2 separate regions of the Homo sapiens genome follow, and region 2 is linked to region 1. Evidence: fine-mapped expression QTL. A gene starts in region 1. The other region holds a variant in brackets. All regions are shown on one strand. Distances are between the middles of the regions.

The links.
Region 2: its variant is fine-mapped to the expression of HSPA6 in whole blood (TOPMed, PIP above 0.99). The same link has a PIP of 0.9 or more in blood mononuclear cells.

Annotation. Positions count from the first base shown.
Region 1 is chr1:161,521,117-161,529,997 of GRCh38, reverse strand. HSPA6 (heat shock protein family A (Hsp70) member 6) reads right to left here and starts at 5,458. Exons shown (of 1, transcript NM_002155.5): 1 at 3,104-5,458. The coding sequence starts at 5,339. The coding sequence ends at 3,408. TRG-GCC2-1 (tRNA-Gly (anticodon GCC) 2-1) reads left to right here and starts at 6,081; the gene lies at 6,081-6,151. It also overlaps a transcript of FCGR2A not described here and the pseudogene TRD-GTC10-1.
Region 2 is chr1:161,557,922-161,566,802 of GRCh38, reverse strand. No RefSeq gene overlaps it. Among named protein-coding and RNA genes, the nearest start is that of FCGR3A, 13 kb to the right of the region's middle. The variant G/A (reference allele first, on the strand shown) is at 4,200.

The sequences.
Region 1 (8,881 bases):
CTAAACAAGAGAACGCCCTCAACTCAGGATCCTTTAATTTGCTCTACAGTCTTAGCTGGGTTTTTTTTTTTAACGCTAACGCAGTAGTGTCAAACTTTGGTAAGGATCAGGTTCTCCCACCGCCTTGCCCCGCTCCCCAGCCTTTTTTTTTTTTTTTTTTTTTTTAGACAGGGTCTCACTCTGTACCCCAGGCTGAAGCACAGTGGCTCAATCTTGGCTCACTGCAGCCTCCGTCTTCCCGGTCCACGCGGTTCTCGTGCCTCAGCCTCCCAAGTACCCGGGGTTCGCGCCTGTAGTCCCAGCTACTCCGGGAGCCTGAGGCGAATCTCTTGAGCCCAGGGGGCAGAGGTTTTTGTGAGCCGAGATCGGCTGACTCCAGGCTGCACTCCAGCCTGGCGTACAGAGTGAGACCCTGTGTCCAAAAAAAAAAAAAGTAACATGAATAAAATCTACAGTTAGTCATTAATGTTATACCAATGCCAATTTCTTAGGTTTGATAAATATAACATGGTTATGTAAGGTTTTAACATTAGGGGAAGTAGAAAGGATATAGAGTAATGACTTTATGTAGTATCTTTGCAACTTGTCTGTTCATCTAAAATTATTGCAAAATCAAAAATTCTTTTAAAAAACCAACAACTTGAAAGTGGTTGCCTGTGAGGAGTAGGACCTGGGAAGGGGGCAAGAAACTGCTTGTACCAAGAATTGATTTTTTTAATAATGGGCATGTGTTCTGATTTAATTTGTTCAAACTTTTTTCCCCCCCTTTGGAACTGGGTGACATAGTTGTGATTACAATAATCAAACTAAGACTACATACAATATAAGGATTTTTAGATACCTAGTATACAAGAAACAGTCCCCAAAGAAACTAAACCAAAATGATCAACAGACGTTTAAAAGTAAATAAAGTTTGTTTATATTTCTCTATAGAAAAATAGATTGCACTCAAATGGGAGGATCTGAGATGTCACAACTAAACACGATAAAAATCTTTCTTCTTATATTCTGTGTGTGTTGGGTTTTTTAAAAGGATAAAAGGCATACTATCAAAATACTAAGAAACTATAAAAAAGTGAGTACTATCAATCCTCTTGAGAAGTTCAAACAGGTTGAGGGGGGTCAATGTTGAGAATTGAGATGAGATTCAGGAAAGGAAGAATGTAATGCAGGATGTACGTGTTACTCCATCTCTCTCTCTCTTTTTTTTTTTTTTCAGGTTCCTTCCATGTGAAGCCAGGCTGCGTAAGACTTGGGCCAGGGCCAGGAAAAGAGGGCAGTTAAAAATGTGAAATGACAGCCAGGGACAAGTGAGTTGTTAGTGTAACCTTCTCTCCGTCTTTAAAAAATCAACCTAAGAAATATAATGTATAATGTAGCATTGTTCTAGCCAAGCTCTCCCATAATTTCTGAGATAAAAATAAATCTCCCAATGCCCATAGGGCAAATATACTCTGGATTGGATTGACTGGGAACTAACACAAGTTTATCCTTTTGATTATTTTGTTTACACCAACAAAGCAAAGGCAAATATCCTTGCTTTTATATTGTCATTGACTCAACTGGCAGTAAAGTTGTGCCTAAGGATATTTTGCAGATTCCGTCACTTGCTATAAAAAACACACAACTAGCTAGGCGTGGTGGCTCACACCTGTAATCCCAGCACTTTGGGAGGCTGAGGTGGGCAGATCACCTGAGGTCACGAGTCTGAGACCAGCTTGACCAACATGGTGAAACCCCATCTCTACTAAAAATACAAAACTTAGCTGGGTGTGATGGCAGGCAACTGTAATCCCAGCTACTGGGGAGGCTGAGGCAGGAGAATCGGTTGAACCCGGGAGGCAGAGGTTGCAGTGAGTTGAGATCGCACCTTTGCACTCCAGCTTAGGCGACAGAGCAAGACTCTGTCTCTGCAAGTATACAATAAAATGCACACTTTTTCTCACGGGGCTCAGCATCCAGCTGTGTTTCAAAGGAATAATATGACCAATTTCAAAACATCTAGGGGAAGGTCTGGTAATAAGTGGAGTTATGGCCTATTTGTAAGGTGGCATGCTGAGGCTCTAGACTCAGGCAGGACAGGGTTCTTCATTCCAGCCTTCCTGTCCCCACTTTATAGCTTTGTGTCTTTGAATAAATTGTTTAACCTCTTTGAACCTCATAATGCTCATCTTCAAAAAGAAGATAGTATTCCATAATGCTGCTGTGAAGATTAAGTTAGATTGTGTATGTCAAGTACCTGATACATAGTTATCACCCAACTAACAATTAATAGTAATTGCTAATGTTTGTTGATAGTATATTATACACCTTTCTTCTTTGCCTCTTACATATATTAATTAATTGAACCCTCACAACAGTCTGGAGGTTGGTACTGTTATCATCATCATCATCCCCACTGCAGGGAAGGGGAAACTGAAGCTTGGAGAGTTTAATTTGCACAGTATATAAAGTGGCAGGGCTGAAAATCTATAGAGTCTTGTTCCAACATCCTCATTATGCCATGGGCAGAAACCACATGGGATCATACTATTTCTCTGACATAGATAAAGTCAATAGTAACTTTAATCGTACCACCAGATCTACTTCCTCTGACATATACCATCCTCCAGAGTCCAGGACTCAGAGTCTTTTCTCTAAAAGAACAATGGATAAAGTGACATGATTACAAACAGCTAATAAGCATGTAAACTATTTGTTAGTGTTATTAAAACAGCTAGACTGACAAACTCAACCAGGTTCCTATGACAAAAATACAGAATTTGAATCATAGGATCACACATGGAAACACTGCCAGTACTTAAGTTTCTCTTCATTCTCTGCTTTTCCAATTCCACATCTCTCCCTCTCTCTTCCTGCATTGTAAGTCTCAATCCTCTCCTCTTTACCAGCCCTAACTCTTCAGTACTGTTCCAATGTATTGGCCTCAAATTCTTTTCCAAATCCTGCCTTCCCCTATAGGAATCATGTACACGGTCTCAGGAATATTCTTCACATTCCTCCTTCAGCACCCACCCCAACATTTTCTGCTTCTGAAAGCCTTTGGGTACTTTTGTACTTCGATTGGTTGGAATGAAAAACAAGAAGGAGTTTTAAAAGCTTATTTAGGTCTATAACTATATTTTACATAACAAAATTCATACATGCAAGTAACAAAGTACACAAAATATAGGTGAAAGCAATGTTAAAGTGCCACACAAGTTTTAATAAATTAATGACTTTTTATTTGAAGCAGAAGAGGATGAACCGCCCTCCCCGCAAAAAGTCAAAAGACTTCAGTTATCCTGGGAAGAAAGTTCTAGCTTTGGAGGGAAAGTTCATCTCTGAAGGGCAGGATCATAGAAGACAGTCTAGAAGGCCCATAGCATAGCCCTGACAGTCACAGCTGACTTATCACGAAGGGCCATTCAATCAACCTCCTCAATGATGGGGCCGGTGCTGGGGTCCCCCTGGCGGGCTTGAGTGCCACAACTGCTGCCCCCAGGGACACCAGGCCCCCCATAGAGCCTGGAGAAGATGGGGCGACAGATTTGCTCCAGCTCCCTCTTCTGATGCTCATACTCCTCCTTCTCTGCCAGCTGGTTGTGCTCCAGCCAGGCAAGGACTTCCCGACACTTGTCTTGCATTTTGCGCCTGTCCTCTTCGGGAATCTTGTCCCTAAGGCTTTCCTCTTGCAAAGAACCTTTCACATGGAAGACATGGGCCTCCAGCGAGTTTTTGGCAGCCACTCTGTCCCTCTGGGCCTCATCCTCAGCCTTGTACTGCTCGGCTTCATGAACCATCCTCTCCACCTCCTCCTTGCTCAGCCGGCCCTTGTCATTGGTGATGGTGATCTTGTTAGCCTTACCTGTGCTCCTGTCAGTGGCTGTCACGCTCAGGATGCCATTAGCATCAATGTCAAAAGTCACCTCTATCTGGGGGACTCCACGTGGGGCAGGAGGGATGCCACTGAGTTCAAAACGCCCCAGCAGGTTGTTGTCCTTGGTCATGGCCCTCTCACCCTCATACACCTGGATGAAGACCCCAGGCTGGTTGTCCGAGTAGGTGGTGAAAGTCTGGGTCTGCTTGGTGGGGATAGTGGCGTTCCTCTGGATCAGCGTGGTCATCACCCCACCTGCTGTCTCCAGCCCCAGAGACAGGGGAGCCACATCCAGCAGCAGGAGATCCTGCACTTTCTCACATTTGTCCCCCATCAACACGGCCGCCTGCACAGCAGCCCCATAGGCCACAGCCTCATCAGGGTTGATGCTCTTGTTCAGCTCCTTGCCGTTGAAGAAGTCCTGCAGCAACTTCTGCACCTTGGGGATGCGTGTGGAGCCCCCCACCAGGACGACGTCATGAATCTGGGCCTTGTCCAGCTTGGCATCCCGCAGGGCCTTCTCCACCGGCTCCAGGGTGCTGCGGAAGAGGTCTGAGCACAGTTCCTCAAAGCGGGCACGAGTGATGGACGTGTAGAAGTCCACGCCCTCGAACAGGGAGTCTATCTCCAGGGTGGCCTGGGTGCTGGAGGACAGGGTGCGCTTGGCGCGCTCACAGGCTGTGCGCAGCCTGCGCAGGGCACGCTTGTTCCCGCTCAGGTCCTTCCCATGCTTCCGCCGGAATTCTTCCATGAAGTGGTTCACGAGCCGGTTGTCGAAGTCCTCTCCTCCCAGGTGGGTATCTCCAGCAGTGGCTTTCACCTCAAAGACACCAGCGTCAATGGAGAGAACCGACACATCGAAGGTGCCCCCACCCAGGTCAAAAATGAGCACGTTGCGCTCTCCCGCGCCCCGCCGGTCCAGCCCATAGGCGATGGCAGCTGCCGTGGGCTCATTGATGATCCGCAACACGTTGAGCCCCGCGATGGCCCCCGCGTCCTTGGTGGCCTGGCGCTGCGAGTCATTGAAATAGGCGGGCACGGTGATCACTGCGTGCTTCACGGGCTGGCCCAGGTACGCCTCGGCCGTCTCCTTCATCTTGCTCAGCACCATGGACGAGATCTCCTCGGGGTAGAACGTCTTGTCCTCCCCGCGGTAGCATACGCGCACCTTGGGCTTGCCGCCCTCGCTCACCACCCGGAAGGGCCAGTGCTTCATGTCCGACTGCACCGTGGTGTCCGCGAACTTGCGCCCGATCAGCCGCTTGGCATCGAACACGGTGTTGTGGGGGTTCAGGGCCGCCTGGCTCTTGGCCGCGTCCCCGACCAGCCGCTCGGTGTCGGTGAAGGCCACGTAGCTGGGCGTGGTGCGGTTGCCCTGGTCGTTGGCCAGGATCTCCACGCGGCCCTGCTGAAACACGCCCACGCACGAGTAGGTGGTGCCCAGGTCGATGCCCACCGCGAGCTCCCGTGGGGCCTGCATGGCTGAAGCTTCTTGTCGGATGCTGGAGGCCACGGAGGCTGCTGCCGCTCCGCCGTCGAGGGGCGCTCAGCAGTGAGGCTCTCCCTGCGGTTTCTCTGCAGCCAGCCCGGCTCGGATCTGCTCAGCTCCGCTTCCACCGGCTTTTTATCCTTTTGCGCCTCACCCGACCCCCGCCGCCGCGAACTTTCGCGAACCTTTCCGCACCTTCCCGCACCTTCCCGCCCAGTTGAGAGCCTCTCGCCCGCCCGGGCTGACTCAGCCGGGTGGCGCGGCGCGGCGCTGACCCCGGGAGAAGGTTCGGGCAGATCGGGGCATGAGCCGCGAGGCTGGGCGGCTACGCCAGGCCAGCCCGCCTCTGACTCAGGCTGCTGAAAGAAATGCGGGGAAGGTTCTAGCTCCTCCGGGCTGGCTCTGAGGACGCGCGGTTGTGGCAGAGGCTGCAAAAGCAGCAACTTTAGAGGCAAGGTCTCCCCGGGGCTGTGGGAGGTCGGATCCCTGAGGCACACAGGGGCCTGCGGGCTGCCTTGGAGGGCCGCTGAGAGCCCAGCGGCTCAGGAAGGCCGAAGATATGTTACCATGCGAATACAGATATATAAGATATATACACGTATATCTTAAAACAGTTTTATCTTGAACAAAATATTTTCCAAACCGCGATTTAAGACGGTGCCTGGTTCCTTAGTGAATGGCCAGAGATAGTGAGCTTTAAGAGACAATACTGCAGGTCTTTAGCTGACAGTAGCATTGGTGGTTCAGTGGTAGAATTCTCGCCTGCCACGCGGGAGGCCCGGGTTCGATTCCCGGCCAATGCACTTTCATTTTTTTCCGATCCATTTCAATTCTTTTTCTCATCTAGGATTAATCACTCTTGAATAAATTAAACCAGGTGGCTGAAGACTTTACATTCCTCCAGTTTTGTTCTCTCTCCTTTACCAGTCACTTTCCACAAAGGAGATGTGACATTGCACTGTGGCCCTGGGACTCGGGAGAGACCTCGCCACTCAGCCCAAGAGAGAACGCAACACCTGGGAAAGGAGGACGCAGAGTACGGTCGGGATGTCCCTCATGTTCTCCCCACTGTTTGTATCCCCGAGGAGCCTCGTCTCCAGAGGCCCGGTGGAGAGGCACAGTGTGCGTTTTTCTTTATGGCCTAAGTGGGTTCCCAGCTGGAGACCAGGACTCAGGTGGAGAGTAAACTACTGCAGGCTCCAGTCCAACCTACCTCCTAAAGGCTGGAGGACGAGATGGGTTCACTGGGCAGTAAAGTCACACTGGTTTTTATCAGGTTGTGACTTTGTGAATTGAGGCCATTTCCCACTTTCTTCAATCCAGAACATTCCATTCAGATCTGCTGGCGTTCGGATTTCCGCTGAAAGCCAAAACAAGGAGACATTTCTGAGACTTCTGAAGGTTGACAAAATCCTCACACAATTTCCCGTGACCTCCCCGTCGGGGAATCGACCCCCTCTCTCACGCATGACAGGCAGAGATACTCACCACTATAGTAACAAGGATGGCAACTGCAATAGCTGGCAGCTGGAGAGTATGTGGTACAGTCTGGTGTTACAATTTAGCAGTGTGTTAGAGAAACTTAAAAGTTGGCTTCTATTTAACGTTACTTGCCTGATTCAGAGGAAACTTCCATTTGTAAAAAGAGAAACTAAAAACCCTTACTCCATAGATGGCTATTTTCTCCTTTGACAGGTTAGAACCCACTAGGAAGTTCAAGGGACTTTTTAAGAGGGAGGCAGGAGTCCAGAAGTAGAGGTCAGTACTGTTCCCGGGCTGGGTTCCTTGGTTAATCGTCTCTCCGAGAGCACCAGTGACAGCTGGTAGAGTTTGCTGCTTGAGAGGATCAGCCGTACTGGTAAGGTGATCAGTTCAGGAAAAAAGGGAATGTTTAAAGAAATGTGCAATATATGACTTACACAGTGGAAAATCAAACTGTCCTTGAAAAGAAGTAACCTATTTCATAATTCCAAAAGGGAAAGAAGCTGTCAACTTTAAATTCACTCACTCTCAGGGTCTAAGCTGGTCACACCTGGATGCCAGAGTCAAGACATTTGCCAACGGCCTGCAAGAGACGGGTCTTCACCTCAGCAGGGAAAAGTTGGCCCAGCCTGGGGTTCTGTGCCCCGGCGTGTTAAGGGGCTGTCTTGTGTGGGCTCCTCCAACCTTCTCTTCCAGCCCCCAGCCACCTCAAAACCCCACTTACCCACTCATCTCCAAGAGTTACAGGCATAGCCCTAACGCAGCCTATGAATGTTACCACAGCATCACAGAGGCATGCTTCCAATATCACTCACTTCTTTTTAATTGATCTCTTCAGAGTGGTTCAAACATAGCATAGGGGAGCTTATGCATGCAGTACAGTTTTGGTTTTGTTTGTTTGTTTTTTCTAAAAGAGCCACTGTAGGGTTGTTGGGGGTTTTTTTGTTTGTTTCTTTTTATTTTATTTTTTTCTGGTTCCTGCTCTGTCCCTCAGGCTGGAGTACAGTGATGCAATCACAGCTCACTGCAGCCTTGAACTCGTGGCCTCAATCAGTCCCACCTCTACCTTCCACAGCTTTGGGATTACAGGCATGAGCCACTGCAGCTGGCCTAGTATAAATTTTATACATACACTTAAATATATCCACTTATGTTTAGTAGCTTAGTTTGAGTAGCTTTAAAAATAGAACCGACCTTAAAGTAATGACTTAAATAGACATTCTAATGTGGTGCAAAGCTCACGACTCAATATTGAGTACAAAAAAAAAGCAAGTTGTATGTGTTAGCCCATTCTCACACTGCTAATAAAGACATACCTGAGACGGGGCAATTTACAAAAGAAAGAGGTTTAATGGACTTACAGTTCCACGTGGCTGGGAGGCCTCACAATCATGGCAAAAGGTGAAAGTCATGTCTCACATGGTGGCAAACAAGAGAAGAGAGAGCTTGTGCAGGGAAACTCCCCTTTTTAAAACCATCAGATCTCATGAGACTTATTCACTATCACAAGAACAGCATGGGAAAGACCTGCCCCATGATTCAGTTACCTTCCACTGGGTCCCTCCCATGTGTTGTGGGAATTCAAGATGATATTCGGGTGGGGACACAGCCAAACCATTTCACTATAGAACAAAATTTGTAGTATAATCCAAACTATATATATATAAAAGTCAGTGACATCCACTACCTGTTTGTCCTTGAACAAGTCATTTCACCTGTCTGGGCCACAGCTTCCTCCGTTTTAAAATGAAGAGATTGGACTACATTGTTTCTAAGGACTTTCCAGTTTAAAGTCTCTGATTTCAAACGTCAAAGAATTTACTCATTCCGCACATATTTATTAAGCGCTTTACTATGCACTAGACACTGACCTGGGCTCTGAGTATGTGGTAGTGAACAAAACAGACAAAGACCTCTCCTGGAGCTCACATTCTAATGAGAGGAGTGGGGAAGTCAGACACAAAACAAACAGTAAACATATATTAATAGTACATCAGTAGTAATAAGCACAATGGAGAAAAATGAAGAAGGAAAGGGACATTAAGAGTATG
Region 2 (8,881 bases), 37 kb before region 1:
ACGGCACAGGATGCTATGTGCCATACTGAAGATTCCAGCACCTAGAGTCTTGAGGTATATTGCGGTCTTGTCAGATTCTGCCCAATCCTATTCCTAACTTCCCCAAGCTTGCCATGCTATTGCCATGTTTGAGCCCATGCTGCTTTCTGTGAACAAAGCTATCTTGCCAACTCATACTTATCCTTCAAGATCAAACTCCTTCTCCATAAAGCCTTCCATGAGTTACACATAACTAAACTGTTGTTCACAAGAGGAAGAGTCGTCTACGAGTCGCTGACTCTCCGGGATCTGCCCTACTTTCACAAAGACATGCCCCATTTATGAACACACGAAGCACAGTGTGCCATATTTTGGGTACCTTGACCTGGGGAGAATGTTGTAAATGGATTTGTTTTGTTTCTTCTGGGCTTAGAAATGTAAACTGTTTGCTGTTCTCTACTGCCCTCTGTTGAAACAAAAGTGGACAGTGTACATCTCTTCTGCAGGACAAAGGAATCCAGTTTACAAGGAAATGAAAGAGAGATCTGAGTGGTTTAATGCAACAAACAGCCAACTAATGGTCTAGGGGAGTGAGATTAAGAGTCCAGAGCAGGCCGGGCACAGTGGCTCACGCCTGTAATCCCAGCACTTTGGGAGGCCGAGGCGGGCGGATCACGAGGTCAGGAGATCGAGACCATCCCGGCTAAAACGGTGAAACCCCGTCTCTACTAAAAATACAAAAAATTAGCCGGGCGTAGTGGCGGGCGCCTGTAGTCCCAGCTACTTGGGAGGCTGAGGCAGGAGAATGGCGTGAACCCGGGAGGCGGAGCTTGCAGTGAGCCGAGATCCCGCCACTGCACTCCAGCCTGGGCGACAGAGGGAGACTCCGTCTCAAAAAAAAAAAAAAAAAAAAAAAAGAGTCCAGAGCAAGGAGAACCCGGGGCTGCACTTACCTTAAGCCACTTGGTCTGCTCTTCTGATTGAATGTCTCTTGACCTCAGCATGACTTCAGACAGTGGTACTCAGAAAGAAAGGCTTGATTCATTCATCCGCACTCTGGCTTTAGACCCTTAGTGAGGAGGGTGGCATTTGAAGTTGTAGTAGAAAACTAGGAGTTAGATTCTAACGCCTACGGTCTGCAACGCAAATGCGTTGGAACCTCCCCATCAGGCCTGTTTTGCCCTTTAACTGTATCAAGTGCATGTGTCTCCAGCAAGGGTAAAATTCAGTAGGGTGGGAACTTGGTCCTAAGCAAACATGCTGAAGGATGCTGGAAAATGGTCCTGGGGAAGGTTGAAGCCATCCTCCTTAGTAGCAAGTAAATACTTGACAAGAACATTTGAAGAACTGTGAATGAGGCTCTAACCAATTCAAACTTGCCTCCTTGTCACTGGAAATAGACCTGCTGCAAGGTATCAGCAAATAAGGAGTCATCTCTTTGGCTTCCAGTTAATTTTCTAAAAGCACAATTCAGCTCCAGTCTGTGTCTCTAGCTCTAGCCCAGATTTCTCCTTCCAGTTACCCAGCTGATATTGACCACTCCCCTGCTATGTCCACAGGCACCTCAAACGCAGAATATCCAAACCTGAACTTACCATCTCTCCACAACCCCTTCCAGCTAAGCTTCTTTCCATCATATTCCCCACCTCAGGGAATGGCACCTCCTAAGGCAGGAATCTGGATATCATTGTGATTCCCACATTCTCTTTCATAACCCACATCCAATTGTGCCAGTTCTCCTTGCTAAATATCTCAACCCCACCACCATTACCTTAGCCTGAGGCTATCTTCATCTGCCACCATGACTACCGCAAGAGACCAACTCATCTTTCTGCTCCCAGTCTTACTCCTCCAGCCTATTTACAAGCAGCAACCAGAGTAATTTTGTTAAAGTACAAATTATATTATGTCACTTTCCTGCTTCAAATAATTCAGTGGCTCCCCACACCCTCACGACAAAACCCAAACTCCTTAATGTGTTCTGTAAAGCACTGTGATACCAAAACCCATTTACTCCACTGCAGCTCCATCACACTGTCCTACTCTCCTCATACTCAGAATACAACAAACTCTGCTCTAGGGGAGACTCTTTGATCTCAGTATAGACATTTTCTACGCTAGAGGCCTGTTCTGGCATCCTACGATTGAAAGGTTCAAGAATATTTAGCCATTTCTATCTTTAAGGTGCTTCTGCCTTGATTTTAAGTACTAATCAGAAAGGAAAGATACATGGAAAAAAGTCAGCAATGTAAAATAAATGGTTTAAGCATTTCACATTTTTATGTCACTTATTTTATGTCTCTTTTTGTTGGGTTCTAAGGAGAGTTGTAAAGAGAGTCAAAAAGCAGGGAGCTAAAAGGCATTAGTAAGCCCCTCGAGCCAGGCAAGTTGTTAAGCAGACAGCTCCTCTCAGAATACAAGCAAATCTGTTTCATAAGGATCATAGAGTGAAACACACGAATCAAGCTATGGATACACCAGAGGATAATAGAATTGAATCTTGAGTAAATTCTCTGAAGGAAAAGAGACCAGGCGTGGTGGCTCATGCCTGTAATCCTAGCACTTCGGGAGGCGGAGGCAGGCGGATTACATGAGGTCAGAAGTTCGAGACCAGCTGGCCAACATGGTGAAACCCCGTCCCTACTGAAAATACAAAAATTAGCCGAACGTGCTCACTTGAACCCAGGAAGTGAGGCAAAGGTTGCAGCGAGCGGAGATCATGCCACTGCACTCCAGCCTGGGCAACAGAGTGAGACTCTGTCTCAAAAAAAAAAAAAAAAAAAAAACAAAAAAAGAAAGAAAGAAAAGAAAACACCTTCATAAAACTTTTAAATTTCGGAATGATACAAAACTAAAACCAACCAAAAACAAACTACTAACTGCAAACTGGAAAAAAAATGTGTAAAAATTCATGTCTCCCTGCAAAGGGGTATTTTTATTATATAAGAAATTAATGAGAAGAACATAGAGTTTTGATAAATAGGCAAAGGCAGGGATATCAATAGAGAAACCCAAAAACATTTAGTTAAACAAAAAATAAATATCCAAGAGGGCCAGACATGGTGCTAAGTGCTTTCCATCTAATAGCAATATGAAAGAGGAAATGCAACTGGTTGACAGACACATGGTAAATGTTGATTCCACACTAGTAATCAAATAAATGCAAATAAAAATTATGAGACCCCATTTCTCAGCTATGAAATTGCCCACAATTAAGAAAAAAGAACGTGATTAAATGAACTTGCATATATTTCTGAATAGGGTAGAAATTAAAACAATTGTTTTGGAAAGAGATTTGGAAAAACTATCAAAACCTTGGAAATTCATGTACTTTTGACATTGTAATTTTGCTTCTGGGAAAATGACCTTTGGAAATATCCCAAAATATACAAAAGCACTGTTACTCTTTGCAGAGCTACTGAATGATAATGAAAATTAGAAACAACCTAAAATATCCAAAATCATGCTTCAAGTAAATTGCTCTGCTGCTACATCAGCTGGAGTCTCCCTGAGCACTGAGAGAGAGGGGTATGAATGAATCAGTTAGGTGGCTTTCTGAAGCAAGTACAGAAAATTCTGCTCAAATGGCTTAAATAACAATAAATGTTTTACTATCTCACATATTAAGTTTCTTGAAGTTAGGGCAGCTCCAGAGCTGTTTAATCTACAATAATGTCATCAGTAACCCAGATTCTTCCCTCTCTTTGCTTTGCTACTCTCAGCATGTCAGCCAGTCTTCTCTGGAAGCAAGTTGGCTGCCGTAGTAGCTCCCAGCATCACATCTTTAAGCATCACCATGTCCAAAGACTGAGAAAGAACTCGTTACTTCCTGTGTCCCAGAATCCCTCTAGCAGATTATCCCTGAGGATTAATTGTCCAGAACTGTATCATATGCTTAGTCCTAAGCATGGCAAGACAATAGAACACCATAATTGGCTTAGAGCGGCAGTTCTCAAAGTGTGGTCCTTGTGCCAAGATCAGCATTACCTGGAAACTTGTTAGAAATGCACATTCTCAAGCCCCACCAGAATCAGAAACTCGGAGGGTAGAGTAGAGCTCACCAAGTTGTGTTTTTAACAAGCCCTCCAAATGGCTCTGATGTAGCTCAAATTTGAGAACCACTGGTTTAGACTAACTGAAAGTTCACACACTGAGGCTGGAAAAGGTCTAGGCTTCTCTACAGCTCATGACCACAACATTGCTAAACGAAATCAAGTTCC[G/A]TTAGCAAAGAAGAAGGGAAGAAATGGCTGTGCAGTAGGCAACTGCCCATACAGGATAAAGTTCCTGTTTTGGTGGCCAAAATGACCCAAATCTTTTTAAAAAAAAAGAAAGTCAAAGTAATACCATTTCTTCCTTTCCACACACCCTCAAATACATTTTTTAAGCATTTCTCCTCCCATTTAACGTGAAATGTGAAAGATGTTGAGTGGAGTTTGCAGTTGTTCGAGACCAGCTGGCCAACATGGTGAAACAACATGGTGTTTATGTATATGTGGAATCATTATAAAAAAGGAAGTTGCAGAATAATATGCATTATGTACTATGCTAACAATAACAACAAAAATGAAGAAAATATAAATACATATAGGTGGATGTGTGCTTATATGAATATAAGTGTATGGGGAAAGTTCTGGAAAGATATACTACAAGCTTCTAAGGGGTTACCTCTGAGGAAGGGAGTGAAATTGGGGGAGGGAGTCATTAAATCTCACTGTTACTTTTATTTTATTTACGTCCGAATTGTTTCACTTATTTGCAACAAGAACATATATAGATCACGCGTGTATTTTCAAACCAAAAAGTGCTTAAAGCCACAATAACAAAATATTGGCGAAAGGGACAAGGACTGAGTCTCTAGGGATGGTTCTGAGCTCTGCTCATACTCCCAATGATGTTGCCAACCTTTCTCTCTTCTCCAGTGGGATGGCACGGATAAAAACAGAACAACACAAAACAGTATTTCCACTTCTTTTTCAAAAACTTTTTCAAAAACTAAGTTTTCTTTTTGGTGTTACCTTGTATTGTTCTGGTAGATTCTGAAGATTTTGCACATGAGCAGAAGCATGAATTTAGTTTTTATAATTAACTTTTAACTCTTAGAAGTATAACTTGCTAGCTCTGCTAGAAAATCCTTTTGGCTCCCAAAAGCTGCCTTCATTAGGATTTTTAGAAGACAAAGGCTACTACATTCTGCAATATCTAGAAATTACCACTGGAAGGCAACATTCAGAATTAGAGAATATTTAAGATGGAAAGAGTTAGATATAATCTAGCCCGATTACCTCACTTTGCTATGAGGAAACAAGTTCAGGGAAGAGAAGTGGCTTGACAACTGACCCCTGTCAGACCGAAACCAAAACTGAGATTTCCTTCCTCCTTGGCCAGTATCCTTCCCATAACACATCGCCATCACTCTCTTTTTGAAACTTTAAAAACTTGCAAGTCTGGGAGGCATCTAAGCATGTTCTGATGTGAGATAGCACAAGGCAGGGCATTTAAAACTCACTCTTGGCTATAGCATAAAATTTTAGAAAGTTCTTGTATGTCAACAGGTCATATTATTTTAATAACCACAGCCAAAGAAAACAGGTGCAGCTTAAGGTCATCCCACAAAATCTGCTTCAATCCCATGTGCTTTTTTTCCCTTGTTGTCTGTCTATCTCTTCCTGGTTTTGTGAAAGTGTTCTCTCCTTGTCCCATGACTGCCTTTGTATGATGTATCTCGAGGTGTGTCTGTTTCCAGACCTCTCAGTAGATGCCTTGCTCTTCATGCATTTTCTATCTATTTTTAAGACACCATATTTGAAAACCTGGGTGTCTCTCTCAGTTTTTTGTGGGTTTTTGTTTTGTTTTGTTTTTTACTGTCCCAGTAACTGTGTCTTTCTGAGTTTTCTCTCACTGGTTTTCCTCTAAGTCCCATCCCATTTTGTGTCTTTATGTCTCTAACTCTGCCTGTTCTCCTCCCTTTTCTTTTATATTGACAGTTTCCTTTCCTATTTCTTTTCTTCACTTTACTAGACACATAATGGTGAATATTTTGTTTTGTTTTGTTTTGAGACGGGGTATCGCTCTGTTGCCCAGGCTGGAGTGCAGTTGCACGATCACAGTTCACTGCAACCTCCACTTCCCAGGCTCAAGTGATCCTCCCGCCTCAGCCTCCCAAGTAGCTGGGACCACAGGCATGTAGCCCCAGGCCTGGCTTATTTTGAATTTTTTTAAGAGATGGGGTTTTGCCAGGTTGCCCAGACTGGTGTTGAACTCCTGGCCTCAAGCAATGCTCCTGCCTCAGCCTCCCAATGTGCTGGGATTACAGGTATGAGCCACCATGCTGGGACCATGAATATTTTTTATTAAATAATTTTGATATCTATTGTATTTAAAGCTCAGAGCTTACTATATTTTGTTATTAATATTAAAATAAGCAAGTAGAAGCCAGGCAGTAGTGCTGGCTACTCAGGAGGCTGAGGCAGAAGGACTGCTTGAGTCCAGGAGTTTTTTAATCCAGCCTGGCTGACACAGTGAGACCTCATCTCTAAAAAAGAAAGCAAGCAGAATATTTTCTTAAAAGGCAATTATATTCCTTCTTGGCCAGGCCCAGTGGCTCACACCTGTAATCCCAGCACTTTGGGAGGCCGAGATGGGTGGATCACCTGAGGTCAGGAGTTCGAGACCAGCCTGGCCAACATGGCGAAAACCCGTGTCTACTAAAAATACAAAAATTAGCTGGGCATGGGGGCATATGCCTGTAATCCCAGCTACTTGGGAGGCTGAGACAGGAGAATCGCTTGTACCCGGGAGGCAGAGATTGCAGTGAGCCGAGATCATGCCACTGCACTCCAGCCTTGGCGACAGAGTGAGGCTTTGTCTAAAAAAAAAAAGGTATTTTTTGCCTCTCTGTTGGTACCAATTGTTAAATTCTTTGTGGACCACTGATGCTTACCAAAAAAAAAAAAAAAAAAAGTGGGGGCATCATATTTCCTCTAGTTGACATTAAGACACAGTAATTTAGCCAGAGGAGATCTTAGCAAACATACAGTCCACACTCCACTTTCTCATTTCATGATTGTAGAGACTGAGATCTAGACAATTTAATCGGTGGTCACCCTGGGTGACATAGCTAGGTCTAGAGCTCCTGGTCTCCAGGTCAGCATTTCTTTCTTCTTCATTAAATGTCAAGTTTCCTCCCCTGTTCATTATTAGCTCCTTCCAGAAAGAGAGTTTCTTATCTTTTTAGTAGGTACTCAGTAAATACCAAGGTATTCACTAGGATGCCTTTGGATGAAGGTAACAAGCCCTGACTTAAATTGGCTTAAACAGCAGGGAAATTTACTTGAAATTGTAAGAAATCTGGGTTGGTTGCGTTAGAAGCTCAGTGATGTCACCAAGACCATATTCTATCCCTCCACTCTGTCCTCCTTGGCTATTTGGCATTGACCTCAGACTGGCTGCCTTCAAAATCTTAGGTTTTGCCAGCAGAACCTAGGACAAAATGAGCCCTTGTTCATGTACAGTGGGAGAGAGAGATCATCTCTCCCAAACATGGCACTCCCCTCTACCAGATTGGCCCTATTTAGGACAAAGTTCCGTCTTCTCCCACTTAACCAATAAAAGCCAGGGGAATGCTACACCCTGAGTGGCTTAGATCAGTCAAGATCCACCTCTGCATATGAGGGTGATTCCTGAATAGAATCAAGGTTATATTAGAAGGGAGGGAGAGGGATGGATATCAGGCTAGTACATCATATTCTATTTGTTGAGTTAACTGAGTCATAGCAATTGTTGAGTTGGAAAAAACTCAGAACCTACTGTGGATTCAAGTTCAAGAAATCATTCTTTCCTACATACAACAGCATTGCTCTGTAGCCCTGAGCTAAGAGAGCATCACGAAATACAGTCTTCTTGCTGTTTATAATCGTAAGCAAACTCTTGGACCTGGGAGGGGATGAATGGATAATGTCTGTCTGACTTGCTTCTTTCTAGTTAGTACCAACTACCTCCCTTCTTCCTGTGATTGTTCTTAGAATAGGATAAAAAATCTTCCCTTCCCTAGATCTTACAGTCTCCCCTTCCCCCAGGCCTTTCTATTTTTCAGGATTTTACTCTAATCACACCACCGAAGAATCAAGAAATCTTTAAAGTGTATTAGAGTAGCTAGTTGTGGCAGCACTAAAACACGGCTGCAAATTCTTTGACACTCTCTCCATCAAGAAATGAGGCCTACATCCTCTACCCTTGAATCTGGGTGGGCTTATAACTTCTGGTGATTAGACTACAGCAGAAAGAGAAGCTGTATAGCTTCCTAAATGTTATAAAGTCTTAAGGATAGCTGCCAGCAAGACCTTAGGACAAAATGAGCCCTTGTTCACGTCCAGTGGGAGAGAGAGAGAGAGACCCTCTCTCCCAAATATGGCAATCCTCTCTACCTATAACATTTACATAAATGTTATAGGTTAAACGTTCCACAACAAACTAAGTACTATTTAACATCAAGAGGAAAAAGAGACAGGAGAAAGGGTTAATAAGCCTGTTGATGAGGATCTAAGAAGAACAAAGGAGGCCTGGTTTGGGCCTGGCTACCCGTTGGTCTTGCAAAGAAGAGTCTGAGGTGGCAGAGCCTTCAGTGGCAGATGCCAAATTATCATCATGAGTGACTGCAAGACAGTGTCAGCTAAGATAGCCATTTCAAGCTGCTGAAGGCCTTCTCTTTTAGTCGTGGAGTCCTGTGATAAGAACTGAAAGTTGGAAGAGTGTGCTTGTCTGTGGCCTTATTTGGTCGGATGCAGTCTTTATCATTTTTAATTTGTTTCTTAGAACATTTTATCTTGTTGGCCAAATGCCCTACGAAATATAAAATGGAGTCTTTTTCTAAGATGGAGTTAGTTATGTCAAGGGTCCTTTATAC